3 linked regions of the Homo sapiens genome follow. The protein of the gene in region 1 interacts with the protein of each later gene in a biochemical or structural test. Each region holds a gene or a part of one and is shown in the gene's direction. Other genes may lie near its edges. The genes, in order: CCNC, ESR2 and HACE1.

Region 1 (3,656 bases):
AATACTGGGATCTGCATAGGTAGGAAGGAAGGGATAACAGAACATGTGTCACATCTTTGCCATCCCTGCTGTCTTCTTCTTGGGTACTTTAACTGAGATTCATGGCTTCTACTATCACTTACATGCCGAAACATTTAAATCTCTTTATTTAGCCAAGATCTTGCCACTTGGCAGTTCTTTATATCCATCTTCCTTTTACATAGCTCCGCTTGGCATCCCACCAGCACCTCAGACTCATGATGAGGATTGAGCTTATCACTTTGCCCCAAAATATGTTCCTCCTTTTAATGTCTTTGCCAGTTTGGTGAATAGCACTAGTTATATACCTTAGTTGGAAACCCAGCAGTTAGGCCCTTTCATCTCCCTCAATACCCACATGTAGTTGTTTACCAGTACATTTTGTGCCTTCCTCTCGATTGTTCCTTCTGTAATCTCATAGTCATCTTCTCATTTCTATCCATGTTACCACAGCAGTCTCCTAACTGGCTTATTAGCCTCCAGCACTCCCATCCTCAGAGAGCCTGTCTATCTTCCAAACTGTTGAGCTAGGCTAGTGGTTTCACCTGGGGATAATTTTGCCCCGAGGGGACATTTGGCAATGTTTGGTTTTAGTTGTCATAACTAGGGTAGGGTGCTACTAGCATCTAGTGGGTAGAAGCCAGGGATGCTGCCAAGCATCTTGTAGTATTCAAGACAGTGTCAAAGAATTGTTCAACCTAAGATGTCAGTAGTGCCAAGATTGAGAAACCCGGAGCTAGCCAAATTCGTCTCCCAATTGATATACATACTATTCTCTTCTCCCACTCTCATTTTTTTTTTTTGTAAGACTTGGCTTAGATATCAGCTCTTCAGTGACCCTCCCCCACCCTTTCAGCATCACCTCAGTCTGGGTTTAGGATGCTTCCTCAATCTTCAGTGTACTCTATGCATGCCCATGTTAATAGCATTGTCCACTGTATTTTAATTTCCTGTTTTTATCATGTCAGTCATTTGGTTTTTTTTAACCTCTTCTTGACCTAAGCCCTACTCATAGCTTTGCTTGACTTAGGGCAACCAGTGTGTCAGTTCACATTTGAGTTGCTATTTGCCTAGAATGTCATCCTTAGCAAAGACATGGATAACCAGACCACGGAGTATAACTTAAGCTGGAGTGGGTTAAGGGTATACAGGCTGCTCAGTAGAAATTGTTTTAGGCAAAATTATGATGTAGATTCCTCTCTTTTGTTAGTTTATATTGTATATAACATATATAACTAATATTGTATACAGTATATTACATTTATTTTCTAACCTTTATTTGATTACAACACTGAATTCTGTAAGGATGTGCCCAGCTTTCACATAACTTGATCATGTGCTAATAATGAAAAGGAAGAAAAAAGGCCAGGCAACACTGCTTTTAACTGAAATGTGGAAACACAGTCAACATTGTTAAAACCTAGTATATTAATTAACATTTTTGTTTGTTTTGTTTTGTCACACTGACTTCTGGGTGCAGTTTAACGGCTACTTTGTACACTACTCAGGGATAACTTCCCTTTTCTGCTCTCCTCATTGGATGTTTTTCCTCTTTAACGTGCCTGACTCTCAAGGCAACTGCACCATGACTAGCACGCAGTGAGGACCAGATGTCAAGAACTTGATGTAATCTAGTAATTTTTTCTGTCTCGGATTACATTGATGAGATGGTCAGTGGTAACTCTCATATGTAGCTGTTTAATGTTTTTTAAAGAGTGTTGGAAAATACACAGGAAATAGTGAAAAATCTTTGTTAGATCATATATTCTGTGTTTGCAGTTAAACATGGACAGTTGTCTCTCATTTTCATTTCAGCTTGCCTACATGTAGCCTGTGTTGTACAGCAGAAAGATGCCAGGCAATGGTTTGCTGAGCTTTCTGTGGATATGGAAAAGGTATTCCCTTAGTTGTATGTAAACTTGGATGTTTAAAAATTAATGTCATATTTACTTATCATGAGCCTAAAATCTTGTGATGTCCACCAGGCTAAGAAGATTATTGGTTACAAAATATTAAGAAACATGGGCTGGGCATGGTGGTTTGTGTCTGTAATCCCAGCACTTTGGGAGGCCTAGGTGGGCGGATCACCTGAGGTCAGGAGTTCAAGACCAGCCTGACCAATATGGTGAAACCCCGTCTCTACTGAAAATACAAAAATTAGCTGGGTGTGGTGGCATGCACCTGTACTCCCAGCTACTCGGGAGGCTGAGACAGAATTGCTTGAACCTGGGAGGCAGAGGTTGCAGTGAGCCAAGATCGTGCCACTGCACGCGAGCCTGGGCAACAGAGCGAGACTCCGTTTAAAAAAAAAAAAAGTTTGGTAGGAAGAGTTAATGCTGATTATTTAAGTTATGTATCTCTTTTCAGTTTAGGATTAAACAGAATGGTAAACTTTTGGTTTAATTGGTTGCAAAGTAGCCTCTCATTCCCAGGATTATTTTAAAAGCTCCCTGGTAACCACTGAATACTACTGTGAACTTCTGTAACATAGCCTATCTCCTGGCAGAATGGCTTTTGCTGTGTTTCTAGCTTTTCTGCTCAAGTGTTAAATGCATTAAAATTAATCCTAAGGTTAGGTTCTACTCAGGTGGGAAAAAAATAGCTAATTTGTTAACTAGTTGTTTCAAATTTGTAGCTGCCAGTTTTTGAGCACCTTAATGTATGTGTAGTAACAGAGAATCAAAACATCTTTTGTGCACTACCCCCGATTAAGTTGTTTAAAATAATTTATACTAGAGGAGTGTGCTCTATAGTGGTATATTCCCTCATGATTAGAACCTTTATTCTTAGTATGTTTCAGTTTAAAAGATACCATCAGATGGAAGGAAATCAGCTGCAGAGATAGATAAGAATGGACAATGCACACATGCTGAAAAATGAGATGCTAGAAGGAAAATCCTAAACAGCACTGTGGTGAAAAATACTGCTTTCAAATTTATCAGGATTTAAGGACAGAGACTATTTACTGTTTTCTGAGGGTTGTGTAGTGATGTATGCTCTTTATATAAAAAATGTTGCTTGTTTTTGCCACTGAGAACTTTTCAAATATTTTCTTCTAGATTTTGGAAATAATCAGGGTTATTTTAAAACTATATGAGCAGTGGAAGAATTTCGATGAGAGAAAAGAGATGGCAACCATTCTTAGTAAGATGCCAAAACCAAAACCACCTCCAAACAGGTACTTTGTAGACTTTAATTATTGATGTCATTTAATCATATATCATACTTACTATATTTTTCTTAGATTATGTTGTTTTGTAGTTTTTAAAACATTTCTTCCAAAACTTCATGATCCATGTTAATTTTATTTTTTAAATTTGTGATTTGATTGAGAATGTCTCATTTAAAAAAATCACTAATCTGATTAGTAACTTTTCCTAATGCAGTGGAGGTATATTACAGGTATCTCTCAACATATGGTCATATACCATAAATTTAAAGCTGACAGAATTAGGTAAGTTCATCTGAAATTCAGGGCAGAATTCAGAACTATAGTAGTTTCATGTCAGTTTGATTCTGTGCCATCTTTTTTTTTTTTTTTTTTCACTGCTGGCTATTGTCCTGTTTTATAAATTTCAGTAGCAATTTTCAAAAATTTCAATGAATGATCTGATATTGTAAAGATAAAGAATTTTGGT
Region 2 (3,656 bases), on another chromosome or scaffold:
GGGCAAGAATCCTAGAGTCCTGGAACCTGGAACGTGGTTAAAATGATAGACTCCACATTGACCCATTTCTTGGCTGTGGATTCCTCACCTTGAAAGGAGGGGTGGGGTAGAGTACAGTATGACTAGTTTGAAAGTGAAAGGTTTGTCAGATGCTAAATAGAATTTTGTAAATTATTGTTCCAGTAGAGAATCAATATTATGTACATAAATGAATATGTATGGACAAACAGAGTAAATCAGTGGTTGAAGTTACACGAATCATCAATGGGCCCATAAACCTGGAATGCCATCAAGTTAAAAATGAGCTTAGTTACTCATGAGTTGTCACTTGGAACCTGCGTTTTCCATCCTCCAAAGTGATCACTTCTCTCAAGCCCATTTGTAATATATATCTGAAGTGCTGTATGATGCTAAAATTACCAGCTAATTATCATTTGACTTGGTGTTTCTGTGGAGGAGTGAATCTAGGATTCTAACCTAGAGTGGCAACACCCCACGATCCCCCTGTGACAGCTTCTCCATGCTGTTCTTTACAGTCCTTGAAGAAATGAAGTCTCTTATAAGTTCTGAGCCACTGGGGGCATTCCCATGGCCTGGAGGGCAGCGACTGCACTGGGCAAGCTGTAAAGATGAGGAGGGGTGAGAAGCTGGGGGAAGAGAAGTTTTGGGTAAAGAGCCTGGGGAACTGAGGCCTATGGTGACAGTATCATTTGGGGACTTTTGTTGGCCTGGGCCCATTTCTTCTGAGCTTCCTGAGGATTTTTGGTTTCTAGTTGTATTTTGTTTTGTCTAGCATCTTCACCTTTGCCAGAATTATTTTATTTTCTCTGCTTTTTCCCAGGGGAGGCAATACTGATGCACTTTCCTCTAGTTTTTGCTTTAAATGTATTCCAAACACGATTTTGCAGGACCACACATGGAGAGCAGTGGTGAAATTAATTATTGCTGAAAGCTGTGCACCTTCTTTGTGCCATAAGAAATCTGAACTCTTAAACTGCATTATTCCTTATTCAAGCCTGGTGTTTTGAAAAGTTTTCAGGAAACGTAGACATAATCTGAAGGCGTGATTTTTTTTCTCCTCTCTTAGCTGGCATAGTCATTGTCCAAACCAAAAAATATATATTAAAATATCATCTAGCCTTGATCTTGTTGAATATCTACAAGATTAAGAACCGTGATCTCTCTTGGGTAGGCTTATTGTCAATCACTATGGGTGAGACTGGGAAGGTATATACACATTAGGAACCTAAACTGAGCAAAGCATGTGGATTTAGAAAGTATTTATCCATCTTTACATTCATAACACCATTACATTCTCCTTGAGGCAGATTTGCGTTATAATTGTTCAAAGACTTGAACCATGTGTGTTCTCTCTGCTGTAGTTTCCTCATCTGTAAAACAAGAATGATAAGAGATCCTGCCTATAAGACATTCTCAGAGATAGGCATTGTTACCCCCATTTTCCTATAAGAAAAACAAAGACTTAATGGGAGATTAAGTGAACAGCTAGAAAGAGGCTGAGCTGGGGTTCGAACCAGAGTCCATTTCACTCCAAGGCGGTGTCTTTTGTTATCATATTTATATTACATGGCCCTCTCTTTTTATCATGGCTTGTGAAGGAAGCCCCGGTGTTCTCTGCTTTGCTTTTGAAGTGCTTCCCTCCCCAGAGATTACCTGTTTGCAAACAGTACTGTGACCAACATGGGTTATTAGGTTGTCAGGACCTGCTTCGTTATTATATTTGCTCTTTATTTATTTATTTATTTATTTATTTTTGAGACAGGGTCTCGCTCTGTTGCCCAGGCTGGAGTGCAGTGGCGTGATCTCAGCTCACTACAGCCTCGACCTCCTGGGCTCAGGCGATCATCCCACTTCAGCCTCCAGAGTATCTGGGACTACAGGCACCTGCCACCATGACCAGATAATTTTCTGTAGAGATGGGGTTTCTCCATGTTGGCCAGGCTGGTCTCAAACTCCTGGGTGCAGGCAATCCACCCACCTTGACCTCCCAAAGTGCTGGGATTACAGGTGTGCTTGGCTATATTTGCTGTTTAGGATAGAATCACCCAGAAACAGTGCTTCTACCCAGAAGAAGGATCTTAACACTGGATAGGAAATTTTAATCAATCAGAGAAATCCTTGCAGTTGAGGCCTTGGTTTTCTGTGAGGGCTGGCACTGCTCTCTGCAAGCCTCCAACCCCAACCTCCACCTACCCCATCCCCCACCTACCCCATCCCCCACCCCTTCTGATCCCAGTCAAGGATTGGGTCAGACAGGCAGGTCTTCTGACTGGCAGCCAAGCATCAACATTCTCAGTAGTGCAGAGGAATTATCAGGACACAGCTAACAAAGATCAGTTCTGAGCCGAGGTCGTAGTGCTTGACAAACTCTAAATGAAGTATATTTGTCTCTAGAAGGGGTCCAAGACTGGAAACTAAGTTGCGCAGCTTAACTTCAAAGTTTTCTTCCTTTAATGAGCAGTTAATCACATCTATAAAATATCAACTCCCTAATGGTTTGTGTTTTCTTAGTGTTTTAACACTTGCCATTCTGTCTCTACACACACAGGGAGCTGAGGAGGAGGGGTGGGGGTGTCTCACCGCCTCTTGCTTTCCCCAGGCTTTGTGGAGCTCAGCCTGTTCGACCAAGTGCGGCTCTTGGAGAGCTGTTGGATGGAGGTGTTAATGATGGGGCTGATGTGGCGCTCAATTGACCACCCCGGCAAGCTCATCTTTGCTCCAGATCTTGTTCTGGACAGGTGAGAAAAAATACATTGTGTTTCTTCTCTGACTTGTTTGAGTAAGGTGCTTAGTGAGTGGGAACAAAGTCCTGGGTGCTGCAATTAAAATCTCACACTTGCAGGGCAGAGGATGATAGCATCATCAGCTCCTTCACTGGGTCAAGAACCAGAGAAGGAGAGAGTTGGGTCCAAGGATTCAGGGTCCTGTGACTCATTTTTAATCTGTGGTGCAGCAGCATTTACAGGCCAGCGCTTTAATAGGGGACTGTATCCCGTAGGTATGTGGCCACTATGTGTATAAGTCGACACAGATTTTTCTCCATTAAAAATTCCATTTTCAGGTTATAATCTTAAGTTGTCCTGCTGTTTTTTGTACCTATAGTGACCAATTATATCTGGAGCTTTCTGGACAGGTGATAAAATTCTTAGAAATGTGCCAAGTTTATTTTCACATGCTTTAACTCACTCTTTTGTTTTTTTTTGTTTTGTTTTGTTTTGTTTTTTGTTTTTTTTCTGAGATGGAGTCTCTCTCTGTTGCTCAGGCTGGAGTGCAGAGGTGCAATCTTGGCTCACTGCAACCTCCGCCTACCGGATTCAAGTGATCCTGCTGCCTCAGCCTCTCAAGTAGTTGGGATCACAGGTGTCCACCACCATGCCAGGCTAATTTTTCTATTTTTAGTAGAGAAGTGGTTTCACCATGTTGGCCAGGCTGGTCTTGAACTCCTGACCTCAGGCGATCTGCCCACCTCAGCTTCCCAAAGCGCTGGGATTACAGGCGTGAGCCACCATGCCCGATCTGCTTTAACACATTCTAATGCATGTACTATATAGCATTTTTGGCAATAGCGGTGGAAGGAAGGGTTACTAAAACTATATGAAACTTAACAGAAAATGGGACATGATGCTGTATCTTGG
Region 3 (3,656 bases), 5.2 Mb from region 1:
TTTTTGAGACTTTTTTTTTACGGTGGTGAAATACACATATAAATTTACCATTTATATTATTGAAAGTGTACAATTCAGTGGCATTTAAGTACATTCACAGTGTTGTGCAACCATCGGCCACTATCTATTTTCAGAGCTTTTTCATCACCCCAAGCAGAAATTCTGTACCCGTTAAGCAATATCTCCCATATCCCCTTTCCTCAGCCTTAGGTAACTACTAATCTACTTTACCTATCTATAAATTTGCCTATTCTAGATATTTTATAAAAGTGGATTCATATTCCATTGCACTGGATTTTCATAGTAATTGGTAACTTATTGCCCTTGCCATTTTTACTTTCACCTCAGAGGTAATTGTTTAAACTTAATTGTTTGCCATTAGAAAGACTTGGTTACCTTGTGGACTGAGGTGATTTTCTAATCATTGTTAACAGGCATCAAGTTCATTGACTAGGCCTGTCACTTAAGAGCAGTTGTACATTTACAGTTTTTAGTTATTCTCATAGTGTTCTACTCCTGAAGCAGCAAAAACTAGCAAATACTTACTGCACTGGCACATACAGATGAATGGGATAATGTCTGTCCTAGCGAACAGCCTATTGCCATACTGCCTAGGAAACTGTGTATATGTGCGTGTGTGTGTGTGTATGTGTATGTGTATATGATCCTCTGCTGTATTATTTCCAGAGTGTCTCTGATGATCTTCCAACTAATTTCAGTCAAAAGTACTCTAAAATTTTCTCTCTGCCATAGATTACTGTGACAAATATGTATGAATAAATGATTATCATCTATACTTCCAATTCTACTTACCACTTGTTATATTTTCCACAAAGAACATTTCTCTGGAAGTTTATACATAATGTAACCTTAGCTTTGCTGAAGTTGTATGTGAATTAGTTTATCTGCATCGAAGTAATCTTTCTTCTGCATATAGATTCTTAATAATATATTATTTTGTATTTATTTCAATAGGAACAACTTTTCAGCCTAATAGCAACTCTTATGTAAATCCTGATCACTTGAACTATTTTCGGTTTGCTGGGCAGATCTTGGGATTAGCGTTGAACCACAGGCAGCTGGTCAATATTTACTTCACACGATCCTTCTACAAGCACATTCTTGGTATGGCTCTATTATTATTTCTGCAGACATTTATTTATATTGTTTTTTTTTCAGTTTGAGGAAAACTAGATAAGCAGTAGTATTTTGGATGAGATAATTTTTATTTTGATTGGAGCCCATCTGTATATGTAAGCCATTCGGGGTTTGAAGGAGAAAAAAATGACCTACCTTTTTTTTTTCCAAACACCTCTAGTTAAGTTAGCCTTTTTTTTTTTTTTTCAATTTTTGTGTGTGTATTTTTATGCTAAGAATACATTTCAGTGTGAGTATACTTAAGATAATTGGCATTTTTGAAGTTTATAATAACTTCCTGAATAGTTATTTCAAAGAAAGATTACATTGTAACAATGTGAAAGAAACACAGAATTAATTTAACAGACTTTCAAATTCAGGAATCCATTTAAAATATGCTGTGTGTAGGATTGTATTATATTTTGCAGTTTTTCAGAATATCTGTAGAGGGCAGTATTTTACCATTAAATAGATAAGGGAAGGCAAAACCAGACTATAACTGCTGTATGTTTGCATTTTTTAGGTATTCCTGTAAATTACCAAGATGTGGCATCCATTGATCCAGAATATGCGAAAAATTTGCAATGGATTTTAGATAATGATATAAGTGATCTGGGTCTAGAACTAACTTTTTCTGTTGAGACTGATGTGTTTGGAGCAATGGAAGAGGTGCCTTTGAAACCTGGGGGTGGGAGTATTCTTGTGACACAAAATAATAAAGTGAGTATTTCAGTTTTTACCTTAACCATTGTTTGTAACTTGGCCCTGATAGTTTGCTAGTTACTCTAAATTCTTCTGGCACTTGTAGAAAAACTTTTACTATTACAGTATCATAGCAGATAAAACGTTTAAGTTAATAAAACAATCAAATGTTAAATTTTGAATTAGAAAGGATTATTTTGATAATTGTGCTAGCTGTGCTGAGTTGGTTCCTAAAAAATCGAGAGCACTTCAGCTGATAGTATAAATTGGGCATATGCATTTTGAGAAATTTGATTAGAAATATAAGCTTAAATGAAGATATTTGCAAAAATTGCTCTTTCATGTTTTTAAAGTGTAATATTAAAGAATTCTAATAGAGAAAAGAAATGCCAGTGTTTAAGCTTTCCACATACTTTTGGGATCCAGTAAGTTTGTTCGACCTTTTGATATTTTTTTGACTGTATAACTTGATTATTTATTTATTTATTTATTGAGACGAAGTCTCACTCTGTCACCCAGGCTGGAGCGCAGTGGTATGATCTCGGCTCACTGCAACCTCTGCCTCCTGGGTTCGAGCAATTCTCCTGCCTTGGCCTCCTCAGTAGCTGGGATTACAGGGGTGCGCCACCATGCCCAGATAATTTTTGTATTTTTAGTAGAGACGGGGTTTCACCATGTTGGCCAGGATGGTCTCAAACTCCTGACCTCAGGTGATCTGTCTGCCTCGGCCTCCCAAAGTGCTGGGATTACAGGTATGAGCCACCACTCTCGGCCTTATTTTTATTTATTATTACCTCTCCTCTATATGTATTATTTAAAAATCTTTGCATATGTTTTAAATTTCACTGTTCAAAGTCATAATATGACTTTAAGATTTAATATGGCTTGGTGTTTTAATATGTTATATGAGGTATTTGGAGTTAGAAAATATCATATGAATTCTAGTTCTGTTGCTTACAAGTAGCAGCTTCTGGTTGAACAATACTAAACTGCCCCCCTCCCTTTTTGTTTAGCTGAATTATAATTCCAAGACATCTTCAGAATCAATTTAACTATAAGAAACAATGTTCACTGAGCCATTTTTTAAACTATAGATTTAGTAAAATGTGGATTATTTTAAAAAGGGTTATGTTTAACAATTCTTCGAACTCAGTTTTCTGTAGAATTGGAATAATAATACCTCCCATACAGAATTGTTATTAGCATTTTGTAAAATGAAAAGCACAGCACAAAAGTTAGTTGTATTGGGTAGTTTTCTATAAAAATAGGTTCTTAGTTTCAGATATATAAAGGGAATTGGAAACTTATTAGCAAGCGACATAATTTTACCTTTTGAAACTTAAGATACTATAGTGTACAAAAAAAAGAGATTGAATTCTTGGAAATAAAGTCAGGAGTTGAGTTCTTACATATTCATACTTAGAAATTTTAAATTCTACCCTCTCATTTTACATGAAATGACACTAATCCTAAAGAGTTAATGGCAAAACTGGGGCCAAAACCCAAGCCTCCTAATTTCAAGTCTAATGTTCTTCATACTATATGCAAAATTAATTGTGTCGAGGAAGAACTTACTTGATTTTTAATGTAAGTCATGTTAAGCTCTAGAAGATTATAATAGTTAAACACTTAATTTTTAAACCTATATGATTTGCCAGTGAGTGAAAATATTTTTAGAATCTTTTTTTAGATTGTTCACCTTGTAGCATGTTTATTATTTTATTTTACACTGGAGGCCTACCCTCAATTAAGGGTAATGAAGTCATAGAATCTTTATTAAGCAATGATTGCCTTTGATAAGAGAACCATAAACATGA

What was found.
Region 2: the proteins of CCNC (region 1) and ESR2 form a complex in vitro, tested with the Homo sapiens proteins (one study listed by BioGRID).
Region 3: the proteins of CCNC (region 1) and HACE1 form a complex in vitro, tested with the Homo sapiens proteins (one study listed by BioGRID).

The regions. Positions count from the first base shown.
Region 1 is NC_000006.12:99,544,652-99,548,307, reverse strand, and holds part of CCNC (cyclin-C), read left to right. Parts: exon of another isoform or gene 1-11; intron 12-1,833; coding exon 1,834-1,913; intron 1,914-3,077; coding exon 3,078-3,196; intron 3,197-3,656. UniProt on the Homo sapiens protein: Component of the Mediator complex, a coactivator involved in regulated gene transcription of nearly all RNA polymerase II-dependent genes.
Region 2 is NC_000014.9:64,256,329-64,259,984, reverse strand, and holds part of ESR2 (estrogen receptor beta), read left to right. Parts: intron 1-2,569; exon of another isoform or gene 2,570-2,620; coding exon 2,621-2,759; intron 2,760-3,656.
Region 3 is NC_000006.12:104,769,394-104,773,049, reverse strand, and holds part of HACE1 (E3 ubiquitin-protein ligase HACE1), read left to right. Parts: intron 1-975; coding exon 976-1,125; intron 1,126-1,660; coding exon 1,661-1,857; intron 1,858-3,656. UniProt on the Homo sapiens protein: E3 ubiquitin-protein ligase involved in Golgi membrane fusion and regulation of small GTPases. Acts as a regulator of Golgi membrane dynamics during the cell cycle: recruited to Golgi membrane by Rab proteins and regulates postmitotic Golgi membrane fusion.